2 linked regions of the Homo sapiens genome follow. The protein of the gene in region 2 interacts with the protein of the main gene of each other region in a pairwise test. Each region holds a gene or a part of one and is shown on either strand. Other genes may lie near its edges. The genes, in order: PPDPF and CTSC.

What was found.
Region 1: the proteins of CTSC (region 2) and PPDPF interact in a two-hybrid assay, tested with the Homo sapiens proteins (one study listed by BioGRID).

Annotation. Positions count from the first base shown.
Region 1 is NC_000020.11:63,515,825-63,524,208, forward strand, and holds PPDPF (pancreatic progenitor cell differentiation and proliferation factor), read left to right. Parts: upstream 1-4,940; 5' UTR 4,941-5,070; intron 5,071-5,459; 5' UTR 5,460-5,484; coding exon 5,485-5,539; intron 5,540-5,687; coding exon 5,688-5,765; intron 5,766-5,843; coding exon 5,844-6,055; 3' UTR 6,056-6,382; downstream 6,383-8,384. UniProt on the Homo sapiens protein: Probable regulator of exocrine pancreas development.
Region 2 is NC_000011.10:88,327,238-88,336,775, forward strand, and holds part of CTSC (dipeptidyl peptidase 1 isoform a preproprotein), read right to left. Parts: intron 7,846-9,538; coding exon 7,700-7,845; intron 960-7,699; coding exon of another isoform or gene 875-959; intron 1-874. UniProt on the Homo sapiens protein: Thiol protease. Has dipeptidylpeptidase activity. Active against a broad range of dipeptide substrates composed of both polar and hydrophobic amino acids. Proline cannot occupy the P1 position and arginine cannot occupy the P2 position of the substrate.

The sequences.
Region 1 (8,384 bases), on a different chromosome or scaffold from region 2:
GCTGTAAATACTTCATCAGAGCTCTTTCTTAGATTGAAGTTGTTTTCTGTTCCTGCTTTGCCGAGATGTTCACCGTGAACGCACACTAAATGTTGTCCAATGCTCGCTCACTGTCCATCGCTTGATGTAAGGGGCTTACAACTGCAGGTTGGTGCATTTTTACAAATCCCAGCACCTGTGCCATCTCAGTGTTAGCATTTGCTGACTGTTTTTTTCCATTTATTTGTTTTTTCGGGGTTTTTTTGAGATGGAGTTCACTCTTGTTGCCCAGGCTGGAGTGCAATGGCGCAATCTCAGCTCACTGCAACCTCCACCTCCAGGTTTCAAGCAATTCTCCCGCCTCAGCCTCCTGAGTAGTTGGGATTACAGGCATGCACCACCACGCCTGGCTAATTTTGTATTATTATTATTATTTTTTTTGGAGATGGAGTCTTGCTCTGTCGCCCAGGCTGGAATGGTGTGATCTCAGCTCACTGCAACCTCCACCTCCCAGGTTCAAGAGATTCTCCTGCCTCAGCCTCCCAAGTAGCTGGGATTACAGGTGCCCGACACCATGCCCGGCTAATTTTTGTATTTTTAGTAGAGATGGGATTTTGCCATATTGGTCAGGCTGGTCTCAAACTCCTGACTTCAGGTGATCTGCCTGCCTCAGCCTCCCAAAGTGCTGGGATTACAGGCATGAGCCACCATGCCCAGCAACTGAGATTTTCCTGGTTCACTTATGCCAAGTAATTTTGGATTTTATCCTAAAGTGTAGGGTTTTATTCTTTTTTTTTTTTTTTTTTTTGAGGCGGAGTCTCGCTCTGTCACCCAGGCTGGAGTGCAGTGGCGCGATCTTGGCTCACCGCAAGCTCCACCTCCTGGGTTCACACCATTCTCCTGCCTCAGCCTCCCAGGTAGCTGGGACTACAGGCGCCCGCCACCACGCCCGGCTAATTTTTTTGTAATTTTTTAGTGGAGATGGGTTTTCACCATGTTAGCCAGGATGGTCTCGATCTCCTGACCTCGTGATCCGCCCACCTCGGCCTCTCAAAGTGCTGGGATTACAGGCGTGAGCCACCGTGCCCGGCCTCGTTTTCCATTTAAGTTGAGATTTTCCTGGTTCAGTTATGCCAAGTAATTTTGGATTTTATCCTAAGTCCAGGGTTTTATTCTTTTTAGAGATGGGGTCTCTCTCTGTCACCCAGGCTGGAGAGCAGGTGCCATCGTAATTCACTGCAGCTTCCAGCTCCTGGGCTCCAGTGACCCTCCTGCCTCAGCTTCCTGAGTGGCTGGGACCACAGCGCGTGGCTCTTTGATGAATAAACACTCCTTGGTTTGCTGTTTGCCTTTGGTTAAATTCCAAAGCACTGACATGGTTGTTTCTGACTTTTGTTTAGATTTACAGGTACATTTTGGAGAGAGGGTTTGTTGACCTCCTCACCCCTCCACTCTGGAAATCTTTAATATATTTTATTATGCAATTCAACCTTCCATCCAATATACATACTGGACGCCTGCCTCCTGCATGGCTGGCTCTGCCTCAGCCACTGGGACCCAGGGTGAACAGATACACCACCTTCTCCCACAGTGCTTGTGTAACCACCAAGCCAATGTCCTGAGTTACTTCCAACAGTGAAAGGTACAGGGATTAATAAGGAACTTTCGCTGAGCACCTGCCCCGTGCCAGATACTGGTCCAAGCACCTGCAGGAAGCATCTTACCCTCAAGGTGGCCACAGGAGTTAGCTATGCCCGTCTCACGCGCAGGGACACTGAGGAACAGGCAGCCTTGGCTGCTGCCCCCCGGACTTCACCTGCCACATCAGGTGCCGCCGGCATAGCAGGCCTTCATCAAATATTAGTCAGCACTTCTGTTTTCTTCTGCAGGTGGTGACACCATCTAAGAGGCACTGGCCAGAGAGCTGGGCAGCAGCTGCCACCTGGGATGAAGATGGGCAGAGCTGGGCCACCAGGGCCGTGGTGTGAACACACCACTCTCCCTCCAGGGGCCGACCAACGAGCTCCGGGGGTCCAACCCTGGCTCCGGCTTTGGCAGAACTCTCACCTCGCCCCCAGACACCTGTGGGAGGAGCACAGTGCAGGTGGCGACAGCTCCCAGGGGCCGAGCAAGGCTGTGAGCCTCCGCACTAGGGGCCTCTCCCATCTAGTCCTCCCCACACGCTGGGGTTAACGCATTCTTAACATATGTATGTTAACCCAACCATAACAAGGTGCCACCATCGTCCCGTCCACAAGGGAGGAGACAGTGGCTACAGGGTGGCAGGCAGCCCTTACAAGTGGGACTGGAAGCCTTTCCCTCCCGCCCTGTGGGAAGCCTGTGGCCGTCCCCGCCCTCGTCCAGCTGTGCCCTGTCCTCTCCAGCTGACCGTCCCCGTCAATCTCATCCCTGCCAATGATCACATCCTAGCAGCAACCGGGCCTGAACCGGCCTGCTATAGCTTGCGCACAATGCATCTTCCGTCCGCTTAGCTTTTCTGCCCCCATTTCCTACAGCCGGGGAGGCTCGGGTGCAGTGTCTCTCCTCGCTCCTGCTTCCTGACCCAGAGCCCAGACCTGGGACTTCCCAAAAGCCCCCAGACACACCAAGGGCACCGCCGAACCCCTCAGAGCCAAGGGAGAGGAGAGCTAGCGTTCCCTGAGCTCACCTTGCCTGGTGGCACGGGTCCCCTCTGTCTGCGGCCACTGTCATGGGAGAAGCCAGGCTCAGCCACTGGCAAGAGCAGGCAGCCAGCAAGAGGTGGATGTGGGTCCAAGCCCAGGCCACACGGCTCCCAGCAAGAGCCATGGCCAGGGGCCAGTCGGCAGCCCCTCTGCCCGACAAGGATGTGGGCCAGCGTCGTCTGCACTTCAGAGGAGACGAGAACCAGGAGGCGGCCCCCGAGGGCATCCCGCGGGTCCTCACGGAGGCTGCGTTCTCCCACCTTGGCCAGGATGCCCCGGGAACACCATGCAGCGTCTCTGAGGCTTCCTGTGCAGAGGGGCTCACAGAGCCCCCACCGGCCTGGTTTAGTAAATGCAGTTTTTACCTTTTCACTTTAAAGGAAAATGAAAATTCCTCCTTTCAGACGCTCTGTGACTGATGTTGACCGGTGTTGACTGGTGAGGTTGAGAATGAGGTGAGCTGGGTCAGGCCAGCCTAGAGGGAAGCGGGTGACCTGGAAGGCCGTGCTGTCAGGCGTGGTCGGCAGTCGGCCCCACGGCTCCTTCAGGGTGGGCCTGGACCACAGACACCTCACCAGGGTCTCCCGTCCCTGGGCGGCTGCATATGGGTCCAAGCAAGCCACAAAGGCTGTGCCAGCCAAGCCCAACGCAGGCCGCCCCTACAGTCCCTGCCCGGCCCTGCACCCTCCCCACCCCTTCCCAGGTGCTGATCACCAGTACTCACTCTGCACCCCAAACCCCAAACCCCGTCTCAGCGTCTGCCCCTGAGGACCCTCTGAGTGTCAACCCAACTGACCCGTCTGCCTCATCAGTGACCCCTCGGGGCTGCACACCTCTCCCATCGCAGGTCCTGGCACTGCTCTCCGGCACCGAGCTCCCCCTCCCAGGTGGGGCTCAGGCGGTTCCCTGCCCTCCGTCCTTAGACCTCAGCTGAAACCTGAGCTCTCCCCACCACCCGCCCCCGCCAGCCTCTGCACTGCTCCCCACGGGAAGGCCGTTCTCCCTTGGTTTACCGTTCCCTGCGCTTGGCTCGGCCATGTGCACATAGTAGGTGCTTACCACACTCGTGCAATGAACACACAGAGCGGTGCAGGGCCCAGGACAGCGCCTTCCCCACGTGCTCAGGGGGCACAAGGGCGTCCCTCCAAGTCTTGCTCAGGGGCCTCCCAGGGTCCCTGCCCAGCTGTGGGTCCTCACTGAGCACCCGGCGAGGACAGAGTACGGCATCCGTTGGCCTCGATCTCCGGAACAACACGGGCACACGGCCGTCCCAGCCAGCAACGAGAGCCACGAAACAAATCCACCCGGGCTGACTCCCGAAGCCCTCGGACTGTTCCGCCCCACGGACCTCCCGGACCCTCTCTTCCACGGGGAAGACACCGCCCAGCCAGGACCGGGTGTATAAAGAAACGGGATTTCCGTAGGGGCAGGCCGATTTCCCCTGCGGGGCCGAGGGAGGTGTGGGGAGGATTCTGCGCTGGGGGGAGGAGGAGAGGGAGGACGCCTTTCTGCCTGGGAAGGGAAAACGCGCCCCCTCCTGATTGGCATGGCGGGCCGTCCCCCGGGCCCCAGGGCCCTGCCGGGAACGCTCTGGGCTCCCCAAACATGGGGTCTCCGAGCAGTGGGGCCCAGCCTCTGCCTCCGGCGACTGGAGACTCACCTCACCCGCCCAAATCCGCCCCGCTCTCCGACTGGGCCCCGCCTCCCACTGCCCCGCCATCCGCCCACCCTTTCACCGCCCCCTGCGGGCAGCAGGCGCGTCCTGGGGCTGGGCAACCGGGGTGCAGGTTCCGGAGCTGCCAGAGCTGTGAGGGGGACTCGGGAGAGATCCAGGTTCCTCTGGCTGCGAAGTCCCTGGAGGCCGGGCCGGAGGGCTCCGCGCACGTAGCACTTTTTGGCCCGCCCGGCGCCCCCGTCGCCTCCACAAGGGCTGAAGAGGACGGGCGGGCTGGACCAGGCGGGGCTCCGAGACGCGTCCGAGACGGGGGCCTGGGCCCGGGAGAGGGGCGGGGGCTGGGCTCCCGGACCCGGGCGCGGGGCCTTTTAACCCCTGCAGACCCAGGACCGGCCGGGCCGCCCCAAGACGAACGCCGCAGGGCTGGGCTCAGCCCAAGCCAGACGGCGAGAGTCGCACCGAGGTGGAAGCTGGGGGCGCGGCCTCGCCGGGGCCAGGAAAGGGGCGGGGCCGGGTGGGGCCCGGGGAGGAGCCTGTGCGCCCCGCCCTCCGTGACGCGCCGCGGCCCCCGCGCATATAAGTGGGCGCGTCCGCGCGTGCGCACCCCGCGCGCGCCTCTCTGTCGTGGCGCGGCTTCCCGCGGTCTTCTCTGCAAATGGGCTCCGTGGCCTAGCGCCCCCGTCCCCGCCACCCGTGATCGTGCGCCGAGGCCCGCGAGGGGTCGCCGCCCAGGTGAGGGGCGCCGCGCGCGGGTGGGACGAGCAGGCCCGAGGGGCGGGGGGCGAGGGGCGGGGCTGGGCCGGGGGCTCCTCTCCTCTCCGCCTGGCGAGCGCTGGGCTCGGGGTCCCCGGCGGGCTCCTCTCGGGTCGGGCGGGTTGGGACGGCGCCCACCAGGTTCCCGACGTCTGGGCCGGGGCCCCGCGCACAAAGCGCCTTTGTTCCACCCGCTCGGCCGGTTTGGGCTGGTTGGAGCCGCCCGCGCCCCGCGCGGCGAAGGCGGTGCCGGGAGCTGGGGAGCCCCGCCTCGGTAAATAACCCAGCGCGGCGGCTCCACCCGCTGGGGAGCGCCCTTCATGACGGAAGGCCGCTGACCCGAGGGGCTCCTCCACCCCCATGCGCAGATCCCACCAGCCAGCAAGCTAAAGCATGGCGGCCATCCCCTCCAGCGGCTCGCTCGTGGCCACCCACGACTACTACCGGCGTGAGTAGCCCCTGCCCCCCATCCACGCGGATGCTCTGCTGGCGCCAGTGCCGGCCCCGTGCAGGCTGCGGAACCAGCGCTCGGCCTGAAGGCCGGTGGGCTGGGGGGCTCCGCGCCCCGCGTTGCTGACGGGACCTCTCCTCTCCAGGCCGCCTGGGTTCCACTTCCAGCAACAGCTCCTGCAGCAGTACCGAGTGCCCCGGGGAAGCCATTCCCCACCCCCCAGGTGAGTGCAGGATCGCCCCTTTCTCCCCCCGCTCCTCCAGGAGCTGGCAGCATCAAGACCCCACTTCGCTTCTCTCAGGTCTCCCCAAGGCTGACCCGGGTCATTGGTGGGCCAGCTTCTTTTTCGGGAAGTCCACCCTCCCGTTCATGGCCACGGTGTTGGAGTCCGCAGAGCACTCGGAACCTCCCCAGGCCTCCAGCAGCATGACCGCCTGTGGCCTGGCTCGGGACGCCCCGAGGAAGCAGCCCGGCGGTCAGTCCAGCACAGCCAGCGCTGGGCCCCCGTCCTGACCTGAGCGGTTACCACCAGCCCCAGGCCTGCGGAGGCGCTAGTCCACCAGAGCCCCTCCCCGCCCCTCTCCCCACTCCGCATCCCTCGCCCCCCTCCCCACCTCCCACCCCCCACCCTGTAAACTAGGCGGCTGCAGCAAGCAGACCTTCGCATCAACACAGCAGACACCAAAAACCAGTGAGAGCCCCGCTCTCTACCGCCCGGCCCCAGCACTCGCTAGCTTTCCTGACACCTGGAACTGTGCACCTGGCACCAAGCGGAAAATAAACTCCAAGCAGCCAGTAGCCCCGATGGTGTGTGCCTGAGCTGTGTGGCCCGAGGTTCCATTTGAGTGTGAGAAATGGCTGAATCCCTCCCGACCTCACTGCCTTGTGGGGGCTGGCCCTGCTCCCAGGCCTTTCTGGGCCTCCTCACGCTGTGAGGCTGTTGCTGGGGCTGATAAGGGTGGGGTTCACTGCTGCTTCTGGAGAGCCTTGGACAGCAGGCAGTCCTGGAGCTGGACAAGCAGGACCCAGGGCAGCCACTGAGGTGGGCCCCCGTGCCACCTTTAGCGGGGGGAAAGGGAGCAGGGAGGGCTGGTCCTCTGAGGGATTCAGGCCCCTTACCCGAGGGCCTGCGGGGCGGGGAGTAGCCTCTGGCTGTGAGCTGGGAAGCCCTCACTCTGGAGGGACCTGGTTCCTGCTGGTAGGTGTCTCCCAAGGGCCTCCCATAGGGGTGTTGCCCCAAGACAGGCTGAGGGGTAGGGGCTGCAGGCACCGTGGAGGGGTCTTCCTGCCACAGGCAGCCCAGCTTAAAGTGAGGGTGGCTGCATCATTCTGGCCTGGTATAGGCATGGAGTGTTGGAGTCCGGGAGTGCTGCAGGCTGGCAGGGATGGGGGTCCACACACAGGAGTGCATGGGCTGTGAGCTTAGTAGACTCCTTCATAACCAAGGTGGGTGGTGTCCCCACACCTCTGCCAGGAGCCTACAGGGATTGACTCAGTTCTGTTGAGAGGCAGCTTAGTGAGCAGGTGGGAGTCAGTGAGATAGCTGGAGACTTGATGTGTGGCCAGGGACATGGTGAGAGGAGGGGCCTCCGTGGGGTGGGAAAGGGTGGGGTTCAGTGGTGGGGGAGGGACTCTGGGGAGGGGTGGGGATCAGTGGGTGCTCCCTGCCTGGTACCCTGTTCCACTGCACTATAAATAGCTGTACTAGTTGGTGGGAAGCTGGTGGGAAGGCATCTGGCTTGTGGCCTCTGATGGCTGAGCCTTTGTCCTGTCCACAGGGTGGAGGCAGCCTCACCCAGCCATCCAAGCCGGTGGTCAGTGCTGAGGCTGGGTGGGGGAGCCTCCGATGGACCCAGGAGTGGGAGGCTGCTCCTAATGGCAGTTGAGCCCCCTGCAGCCTTTTGCAGTGTCCAGATGAAGCCCACAGAGACCCTCCTCCATGTACACACAGCTGTGAGGGTAGCAGGAGTTGGTGTTGAAGGGAGAGCCCAGCCACGCTCAGGTCCCCACCACACATGGCCTGGGGGGGCTCCGCCCTTGGCTGAGCTGGAGGGCTTGGGGTCAGGACCAAGGGTGGGTCCACCCTGCTTGGAAAGAAGCTGTCCTGGCTTTTGGAGTCAGCGGGGGAGGGGCACTGCCCGGGAGCTGGTGTCTTGTTGGAAGGGGCAGCTGGGAGTAGGGAGCAGCCGAGCCACAGGCTGCCCGCGGCATCGTCCCCTGCCTCGGGTCAGGGGGCCCCTTGACTGGAGGACCTCACAACCCTGGGGGTGTCCATGGCCTGTTCCTGGGAGCTGCACCCTCATCAGATTCTCTGTAGGGGGAGAAGTCATATCTTTTCCTCACCCATCACAAGCTTCATGGCTGAGACCTGTTAGAAACAAAATGCTTCCTCGGTGCCACAAAGAAATAGCACTCAAACATTAATTTTCTCAGCAAGGCAATTTTTACTTCTATAGAAGGGTGCGACTCGCGGATGGAGCAATGGTGAGAGCGCACCTGGACAAGGGAGGGGAAGGGGTTCTTATTCCTGACACAGGTAGCCTCTACGGCTGTGTCATTCCCCTGTTGGGTGGGGTTGGACTGCACACTCTAAGGTAATTCTGATTGACTATTTTAAAGAGAGCAGGGGTGTGACCCAGAGTGGTGGGGTGAGTAGTTTGGCAGGAAGGACAGGAACAGGTAGCTAAAGATGACTTAGGTCAGAGCAGGTGACCAGGGGCCGGGTGCGATGGCTCACGCCTGTAATCCCAGCACTTTGGGAGGCCGAGGCGGGTGGATCATGAGGTCAGGAGATCGAGACCATCTTGGCAAACGTGGTGAAACCCCGTCTCTACTAAAAATA
Region 2 (9,538 bases):
TCCTACCTGGCAGATGTGTGGGTCACTGCTGGTTCATTATAAAGTTTGGAAAATGCTAATATAAGATAAACCTATGGTGCTTTCAATACTTGTTCCCAGTTCCCTTTTTCATATCTCACTTCTGGTATTTAAGAGCCAAGTAACAGAGGAAGGAAAAGGGGAAAGAATATTATGTTAAAATGCAAGGAAGGGTAAGTCTCTATTAATTTTACTCTCTAATCACCTATTTCTTCATCAACATTTTAGACATTTATGGATCCAGTGTGAGCAATGATTTAAACATCTATTCTGAAAATGTGAAGAGAATGTAAAGAGTGAATAAGATTCTCTCCTCCTCAGTGAATAGTCTATTAAGACTATTTTAATAGAAGCCAGTTTTACAAAGCTGGGTCATGTCAGATAAGTGATGAGTATGTCAATTTCTCTGTAAAAGCCACCTTCTCTGTGGAAGACAGATCTAAGCTGCTGTGGCCTCACATGTTTCTCTCTTGAGGGATTCTTTTCAAGAAAAGAATAAGCAACCTAAGGCAGCCTAACTACTTTACGAATGTGAACTGAACTTGAGTCAACCTTTTTTTTAGCTGGGTCTTTACCCTTTTCGGTTCACGTCTACTTAGGTTACAAGTAGCATTCTTGGGAGAGCTGATTTGACATGTGAAAACAGAACATAATAAAGTAGAAAATTACTCACATAAAATAGTGCAGACAACTTAGAAACAGCAGACAAGCAGGCTCAAGCAAGAAATTCATAAGAAAACCATAATCTCTCCAGTCACCCTCTGATGAATAAATAGGCATTAATTTGCATAAGCCATCAGGAAGTGAGGAAGCTTGCTTTTAATAAGAAAGTTAGAAATTTTTCAATGGAGCTCACCCAGTTTGTTCCTCAGATGTGGCAAATCATATATCCCCACAGTTCCCAGCTGCATGAACAAATGACTGATAAAATCAGTGACATCCTACAAAGAGTTTACAATGGTAAACTGAGTCATTATGTTGAGATTAAGCATCATCATGAAAGAAGACATAAAATAGTTAGGCAGGCACTCAGTGCTAAACTTCTGATACTTTTCCTCCACTGAAATACTCTTACAAGTAAACCCAAAGTTGTTTAAAACAAAACAAAAAAAAGACAAAATGCTGAGCTTGATATATTGAATCCAAATTTTAAAAAGTATACCTATCTCAATAAGTCTTCTAAAATTGTTATATCTTAATAATGAACCCAGAAGGCTCAGTGAAAAAATGTCACAATATTCCCAAATCTTTTATTGTAGAAACACAGGCGACATTTCTGGCTGTGTGATAAGCTTGAAATTTATTAATCACTAGCACACAAAGTGAGAAATTAAACCCTCTAGTATGGATTTCTCAACATAGAGTTCTTGTTTCTGTTTGTTTTGTTTTTGAGACAGAGTCTCACTCTGTCACCCAGGCTGAAATGCAGTGGCACAATGTCAGCTCACTGCAACCTCCACCTCCCGGGTTCAAGCGATTCTTCTGCCCCAGCCTCCCAGGTGGCTGAGACTATAGGCGTGCACCACCACACCCGGCTACTTTTTGTATTTTTAGTATAGAGGGGTTTCACCATGTTGAGGCTGGACTCCATCTTCTGACCTCAGGTGATCCACCAGCCCCAGCCTCCCAAAGTGTTCTTGTTTTGAGTAGCAACTTGCTTTAGAAACACTGATGGTCATTTTTTTTAGCTTATAGTTCTATTAAGATTGGAGCCTTTCAAACAAGAGCTCAATTAGAAAGCCCTAAGATTTGCTTCACTATCACCAAATAAAATTTCCAGCCATAATGAGTCTACTTCCCCTCTACATATTTCCTCAGCCCTTGAGTAGCTTAATCTTCAAAATAAAATCTGAGTTCCTTCTCTACTGCTCCCTTTTAGAGTCAGTTTCTTTTACTGCCTCAGAGAAAGTAAAATGAGAAACAGTAGGTTAGAAAGCCTATTCAGGCTGGGCGTGGTGGCTCACACCTGTAATCCCAGCACTTGGGGAGGTCCAGGCGGGCGGATCACTTGGGGTCAGGAGTTCAAGACCAGTCTGGTCAACATGGTGAAACCCCATCTCTACTAAAAATACAAAAATTAGCTGGGCGTGATGGCGGGCACCTGTAATCCAATCTACTCTGGAGGCTGAGGAAGGACAATCTCTTAAACCCAGGAGGTGGAAGGAGCGAGGGCCTGGGAGACAGAGCTAGACTCCATTTCAAAAAAAAAAAAAAAAAAAAAAAAAAAAGCCTATTCAACAGGAGGTCATTTTTTGGAGCTTAGTTTGTTTTACAGGACTTCCTGTCTCTGGGCAATTTGGTGGAGAGAATGCTACACAGAGGAGCTTTATACATGATCATCATTAAAAATGAACAAAGTACATAAGAGCATAAAGAAGAAAAAATAATCACATATCCAGCCATCATGTAAAGTCAGACATAATTAAGCATTTTCACAGTATTCTGTTTCGTGTTGTTACATTGTGTGTGTGTGTGTTTTGTTTTGTTTGGAGACAGAGTCTCACGCTGTCACCCAGGATGGAGTGCAGTGGTGCAATCTCAGCTCACTCCATGCTCTGTCTCCAGCGTTCAAGTGATTCTACTGCCTCGGCCTCCCAAGTAACTGGGACTACAGGCGTGCGCTGCTATGCCTGGCTAATTTTTGTATTTTTAGTGGAGATGAGGTTTCACCACGTTGGCCACGCTAGTCTCCAACTTCTCAAAGTGCTGGAATTAAAGGCAGGAGCCAAGCTAGCCTGCATTGTGTTTTTATATAGGAGATTGCCTGCAGGTACTTTTAAGAAGTGCAAATTTGCTAAAGTGTGCCAAGTACAATGAAATGGTAAATGCTACTAAAATCTGATAATCTTAGAAACTGGCCTGTAGATAGTATTGTCTTTTGTTTTGGCCAGCCCAGTGTTTTAAAGGAAATTTGAATTTGAATGCCTCTAAGACTGTTTCCATCTTGCCACAGGCCTGATTACTCCTTATTAGTTTACATAAGGTTATTTCAAATGCTTAGATACCCACCCACCTGAGTGGGCCCTAAATGTAATATGCAACTCCCATAAAGTGCTCAGATAATAAAATGCCTGGAGGATGCTGAGTAAGAAAAAATCTTTCATTTTTTTATTATTATTATTATTTTGAGACACCCAGGCTGGAGTGCAATGGTGTGATCTCGGCTCACTGCAACCTCTGCCTCCTGGGTTCAAGCAATTCTCCTGCCTCAGCCTCCTGAATAGCTGGGATTACAGGCATGTGTCACCGCACCCAGCTAATTTTTGTATTTTTAGTAGAGACGGGGTTTCTTCATGTTGGCCAGACTGGTCTCGAACGCCTGACCTCAGGTGATCGCCTGTCTCGGCCTCCCAAAGTGCTGGGATTACAGGTATGAGTCACCGTGCCTGGCTGAAAAAAATATTTTAAAAACATACCTAGTACCTCCTGCTCAACTCAAACTATGCAAAAACTTTAGATGTCAAACTTTTATTCCTTCCAAACTTTTATCTAGCTTGAAGTCACATCCAAATATATGTATCTCCATCCCTACTATACCCCCAATTTCTCAAGCTGTTAAAACCAAGTTTTAAAATGGCTTAGAAATCTCAAATCATAAAAAATGTTTCTCTTTCAGATAAGCCCTGAATAAACAGAACTTAATAAAGCAAGTTTCTAGCAATAGGAGCTATTCTGATTGATTCCGAAGTGGAATGCCGAGAATGGCAAAGAAGCTGTGTCTCTCCTGGTGAGATGCAGGATGCTGAGGGAAGCAGAAGGTAAAAGCAGGAGCCTAAAAGAATGCTGTGGTGTGGAAAAACTACTCAACGTGCTTTTTCCTATTCTCAGTCAGCAACAACAATCAATACAAAAGACTTCGGTGACCCCAAAATATGTAGGAAGTTCTCCCCACCAGCAAGCAAGCAATCAATTCTGCAGCAGACACCAGCTCAGTGCCCTCCAGTACAACTCCAATGCTACCTACCAGGAGACAGTTTCAGATCCCGTAGGTTGAGGGCTTAGTCCCCAAGACTGCCTGCCCACTTTAGACACCAGTCTCAAGTCCAGGCCTCCAGAACTTCTGATGGACTGGCTTCAAATTGGGGTTCCCATAACCCCCTCTTTGGGTTCAATTAATTTGACAGAGTGGCATAAAAACTCAGGGAAACATGTTTATGATTTATTACAAAGGATATTTGAAAGGATATAAATACACAGGCACTTGAAGAGATACATAGAGCAAGTTCTGGAAGGGTCCCAGACACAGGAGCTTCTGTCCCTGCGGAGTTAGGGTGGACCACCCTTCCAGCATGATGAGTTCTTCTTCACCTTCCTGTCAGACCCTACATGTTTAGCGCTTCAGAATTCCCTCAAATCTGTTCTTCTTGGGCTTTTATGGAGCGTTCATTGAATACACATGATTAAAGCATGGATAACCATGTTAAAATATAATTAGGTTATAAGGACATGATCTAAACCTAACAAGGCCTGTCTGTTCAGATTCTTCTTGGTGTCTCTGTGCAGTGTTCCTTCTGCTATGGTATGGGGCAGAATACTCTCTGGTATGAGGGTCTTAGAAACCATAATCAGATTAGAGTTCTGCAGTGGGCAGATGAAAGGAGGGTAGGAGAAGATCAGAGAGAGAGATTCTGGTTTCTGTAACAAGGGTCTTGGGAGTGAGTTATGAGCCAGGAACCATGGACAAAACCTATATATGTCATAACATACAAATACTCTGCATGTACCAACTACTCAACAAACTCGAGCAGCAAGAACAATAAGAAACAATCTACTTCAAGCATATCTGAAGCATATATAAAGAGGATAAAAGGAAGCAAGTTGTAGGGTTCCAGTCAGTGGAGAGGCGTGAAAATCCAATTGATTTGTAGGATAACAACAACGATGGCAGGTAAGCATGGCAAGAATTTGTCAAATATTTCTGTAATGGCAGTAGGTTGAGTATGTTTTCGTTTATGTAAGACTCTTTGAATAGCAAATACTACTCAAGTTTTGATGTTTTCTCTTTTTACAAAAATAAATTTTAATGTAAAAGATGCTTTCTAATTCTATAGGAACAATTCTCACATGCAATACTTATTACATGGGCTTGTGTTTTCCTTGAGTTACGCATCCTTTCAAGCACGGTTTCCCCAGCTGCAGGAAATACCCTGATGCTTATGGTAAAATCTGTAAACTTTCTGTATTAATAAATGTCACCCATCAACAGTGGATGACTTTATTATTCAAAGTCAACTCCATCTTAATATCTTTCTTAAGTTTTTAAACTCTGTTTCCCATCACTCTTGCAATTGGATTTACTAAAATAACATGGTATTTTATCACTTTGCAAGCTATGTTTATCTGGAACTACCTGATTATATTAAGTTTCAAAAAGAAGTATCCTATTATATTCTACTCTGCCTAAGGAAATTATGGTGCTTGTCATAAGACCTAACTACTGACCAGAGTGGTTGATTTTTCTGCAGAAAAAGAAAACATGGCCCTGATAATGGTTTTGTCAAATGGGCACTTTAAAATAGACATATCCTGAAATCAGTAGGGCAGGAGTATTTTTTCTATTGTTATTCCTAATGAAAGAATAAGGATTCGATCAATGCCATCCAGAACCATATGATTAGGCAGGGTTCTACCCTCCAACAGCATATATATTAATTCTTTCCAACTCATGGTTGGGAACACATATAACTTTATTTGGCTTTAAAAAGTGATTTTCTATTGACCTAATGTGACTAATGTTCTTAGGCAATGGCAAAACACCAAATGTGCTTACACCGTGATTCACAAAAAGTGATACAATTCCTCATTCAGCCACCAGCTAATTCCCTCTGTCCCTACCAGCTTTGGACTACTATTTAAGCTAAGAACTAACTGATGAAAAAATAATAAAAGAAGAAAACTGCTTTTGTCTATATCTATTACATCTCTGGTAATTAAATAATGATTTTAGAAGTTTCCCCACCAGTTTCTCCAATTCTGCAGAATTTAAGAATCAAAAGTTTTCTAAGTCAAAAGAATAAACTATGTACTTGTCTCTTTTTACCTATTCCTCATCTCCTAAATAATTTATTTAACCTATTTCCCAACTGAATTCCACTTCATTCATTCATTTTTTTTGTAATAAATTGACTAGGTGTCTATTGTGTGTCAAAGAAGAAGGGATAGAGACAGAGGAAAAGAAAATGACAAAAAATTATGTACAAGGTTTATGGTACATGGTAACAATTGCCTTGAATATCTCTTCCTTTGCACATGCATTCCACATGCAATTGATTCTTAATCTGAAGTCAAAGAACCTTTGAAGGGCTGTGACAGAGTAACTGTAAGAGGTCTGCAAAGGCCTAGGCTCATCAACGTATACACCAAAGATTATTTTCAGGTTAAATATACCACATATACATTACAATTTTAAAAATTTATATAGATACTATTGTAAGTATGTTTTTTACAAAAAAAATGCGTAGCATCTGGAAATGATACTAAAAATAGTTAACAACTGGTTAAGCATGGGTTTCCACTAATTCAGTGGACTGGTGGCCATCAACAGCTAGCATGGACAAACTGGTTTCCACCAGCTGCATATCACACCAGCAAATCCAGTTGAGGAAAGGCAACCTCTTCCTCTCTATTTCATCTTTTTTTTTTCCATATTAAAGAAAGGTCCTTATTTTAAAAATATTTCTGGGAGTTATTATTCTAAAAAATATTGTAAACTTGCTTGGACCGCCATAACCTTGTGACAAACCACAACTCCCATGAGAAATTATAACAAGTTTAGAACTAGGCCTTTGTTGGTGCTTTGTCTTTTATCATATTTAACAGAGTTATTCCCTACTTTCCCACTTCTTCCCAGATGTTTTAAAGGCTGTAAACCTTTCACCATGAAAAAGTCTGTCTTAATTTATACTCTATGTATAATGAGAAACGCCTAGTTTCAGGCTTATGTATCCAATTTACTTGAACCATTTAATATTTAGCTTACAAGAAAAGTTCCAGCTTGTGAAGAACAAATGAAATGGGCTGCAATTTGTGCTAAACTATTTTAACCCTGAGTATGTTTGCAATTGGAAAAAGTGTGTTATGAGAATGAACAATAGTTCTTTCCTAATGAGAGAAGGAAACAAGCTGGGTTGACTTGGCTACCTTTCACTTTAACCAGCCTAAGGGAGTAACTCCTAGGTTCTCTCTTTCTGTTAGTTTAGAAGAAAAAATTACTCAACATATTTAGTACATTTAAGATAATGAATCATTTAGGCCTATCACTACCTCAGCCAACAGGTAGTGATAGGAAGGACAGCATAGTAACTGCAAGAAAACAAAATGTGTAATCTCTCTATCTTTCCTACAGATTTAGAACAAAGCCAAATGACTATGGCAACATTTAGAAATAAAGTGGTAGTAATAAGGAAAATAAATTAAGAATTTAGTCATACTTACCAAAATGTAAATTTTAAACATAATTTATACATATTCAAATGTAGCACTGGTATTTTGTAAACCTACTAAAATCATAATTTTAAATAAAGTGGCAAAATTATACCAACTACTACTACTCTTGGGAAGAGTGGTGTCAATTCCGGTCATCTTCTTAATCTAAAATTAAAATTCTGAGGGTCTACTAATCAGAAGAGGTTTCAGATATCAAATCATTGAAAATGTAAATCCAACTTCCAACAAAACTAACCTTAAAAAAGGCAAACCACTTGTAGTCATTCAACACAATCTCAAAGCCTTGGTTGTAAATGATGGTGAAATGGCCAGAATTGCCAAGGTCATCATATGCTGTATCCAGCTTCTGAAGGTACACCACTACTTTTTTTTCTTGTGGTCCTAAAGAAAAAAAAAAAAAGCACAATAAAGGAAAATTATTTGGATTTCAATAGGGGAAAGAATCCCCCAATTTCAATTTTAATTGTGCTGCTTTCCTTTCATGCTACCCAGTTTGAGCACAGTCTGCCTAGTGAAGAAACCAGAGGCTCCATCTTGTTGCCTCAAACAGTTCCTGCTCCGAGGCAAGACTGTGAAGTTAGGCTCTAAAAATTTGAGATAATGCAAGCAGAAGCAGTGGCTCACGCCTGTAATCCTAGCACTTTGCGGGGCTGAGGTCAGAACTTCAAGACTAGTTTGGGCAACATAGTGAGACCCTGTCTCTACAAAAATAATTTTTAAAAATTCGCTGGTTATGGTGGTGCATTGCCTGTAGTCCCAGCTATTTGAGCGGCTGAAGCTGAGGTGGAAGGATTGCTTGAGCCCAGGAGTTGGAGGCTGCAGTGAGCTATGATTGCACAACTGCATTCCAACCTGGGCAACACAGTGAGACCTTGTCTCAAAAAAGAGAGATATGCTATGCAGCCCAGCAGGCAGGGAGACCCCCAAAACTACAGTACCTTTCCAGAGCATCCCAACACTGAAGAAATTTTTCCACTGAACAAAAGGAGAAATGGGGAATGTTGAAAATTACAGGCTTCCAGAAACGGAGAAAAGGCAAAATGCTAGTCAAAAGTGGGAAATGCAAGAATAAAAGGTATGACAACAAAAAGATAAATAAACAGACTATCAGATCCTAAGGAAGACAATGTGCTAAGCCCAGGAGAAGACACAAAATGATCTATTCGGAGAAGAAATGGGGTACCTTTCTCCTCAAAGGCTCTACAGTTTAGAACCTCATAATCTGAATCCTTCCAAAGTTTATTCAGCAAACTAGAGGTCTGTATCCTATAAAACCAATTAGTGCTGATAGGAATGATACGTTTAACCTTCATAGATGAGGGCTCAGACCTGTGGGTGCCTTTAATTACTGAATTAAGGCCAAAGGTAATTTTATAGGCAGAGCCTTCCTGAAAATGATTCAGCTGTGTCCATCTGGAGAGTTGTGTATTTTAAAGTTTTTCCATGTTTGAGAGTAATGCTCTGACATGGGAGATTGCATGTGACAGGGCAGTGCAAATCCTGATCTCTTTCTGCCCCAACCTTCAAACTCAAATTTAAAAAAAAAAAAAAAAAAAAGGCCAGGCGTGGTGACTCCCGCCTGTAATCCCAGTACTTTGGGAGGCCGAGGCGGGCGGATCACGAGGTCAGGAGATGGAGACCATCCTGGCTAACACAGTGAAACCCGTCTCTACTAAAAATACAAAATATTAGCCGGGCGTGGTGGCATGTGCCCGTAATCCTAGCTACTCGGGAGACTGAGGCAGGAGAATCGCTTAAACCCGGGAGGCGGAGGTTGCAGTGAGCCGAGATCCCGCCACTGAACTACAGCCTGGGTGACAGAGCAAGACTCCATTCTCAAAAAAAAAAAAAAAAAAGTTACAATGTTCAGGATTATGAAATGCTATACAGTCAGTTAAAAAGGTATTTCTTTAGTAACAAATGACTTAATCTTTGTTCTGTTGACAAGAAAATTATAGCTGATTTTTTACTGACTCTGCAGAAGTCACAGGCTGTAAGAGGGTTTGGGTAGACCACAGTGTGACTCTTCTAACTAGTGATTGTCTTTTTTCCACCCCACCCCCTTCACTAGGTT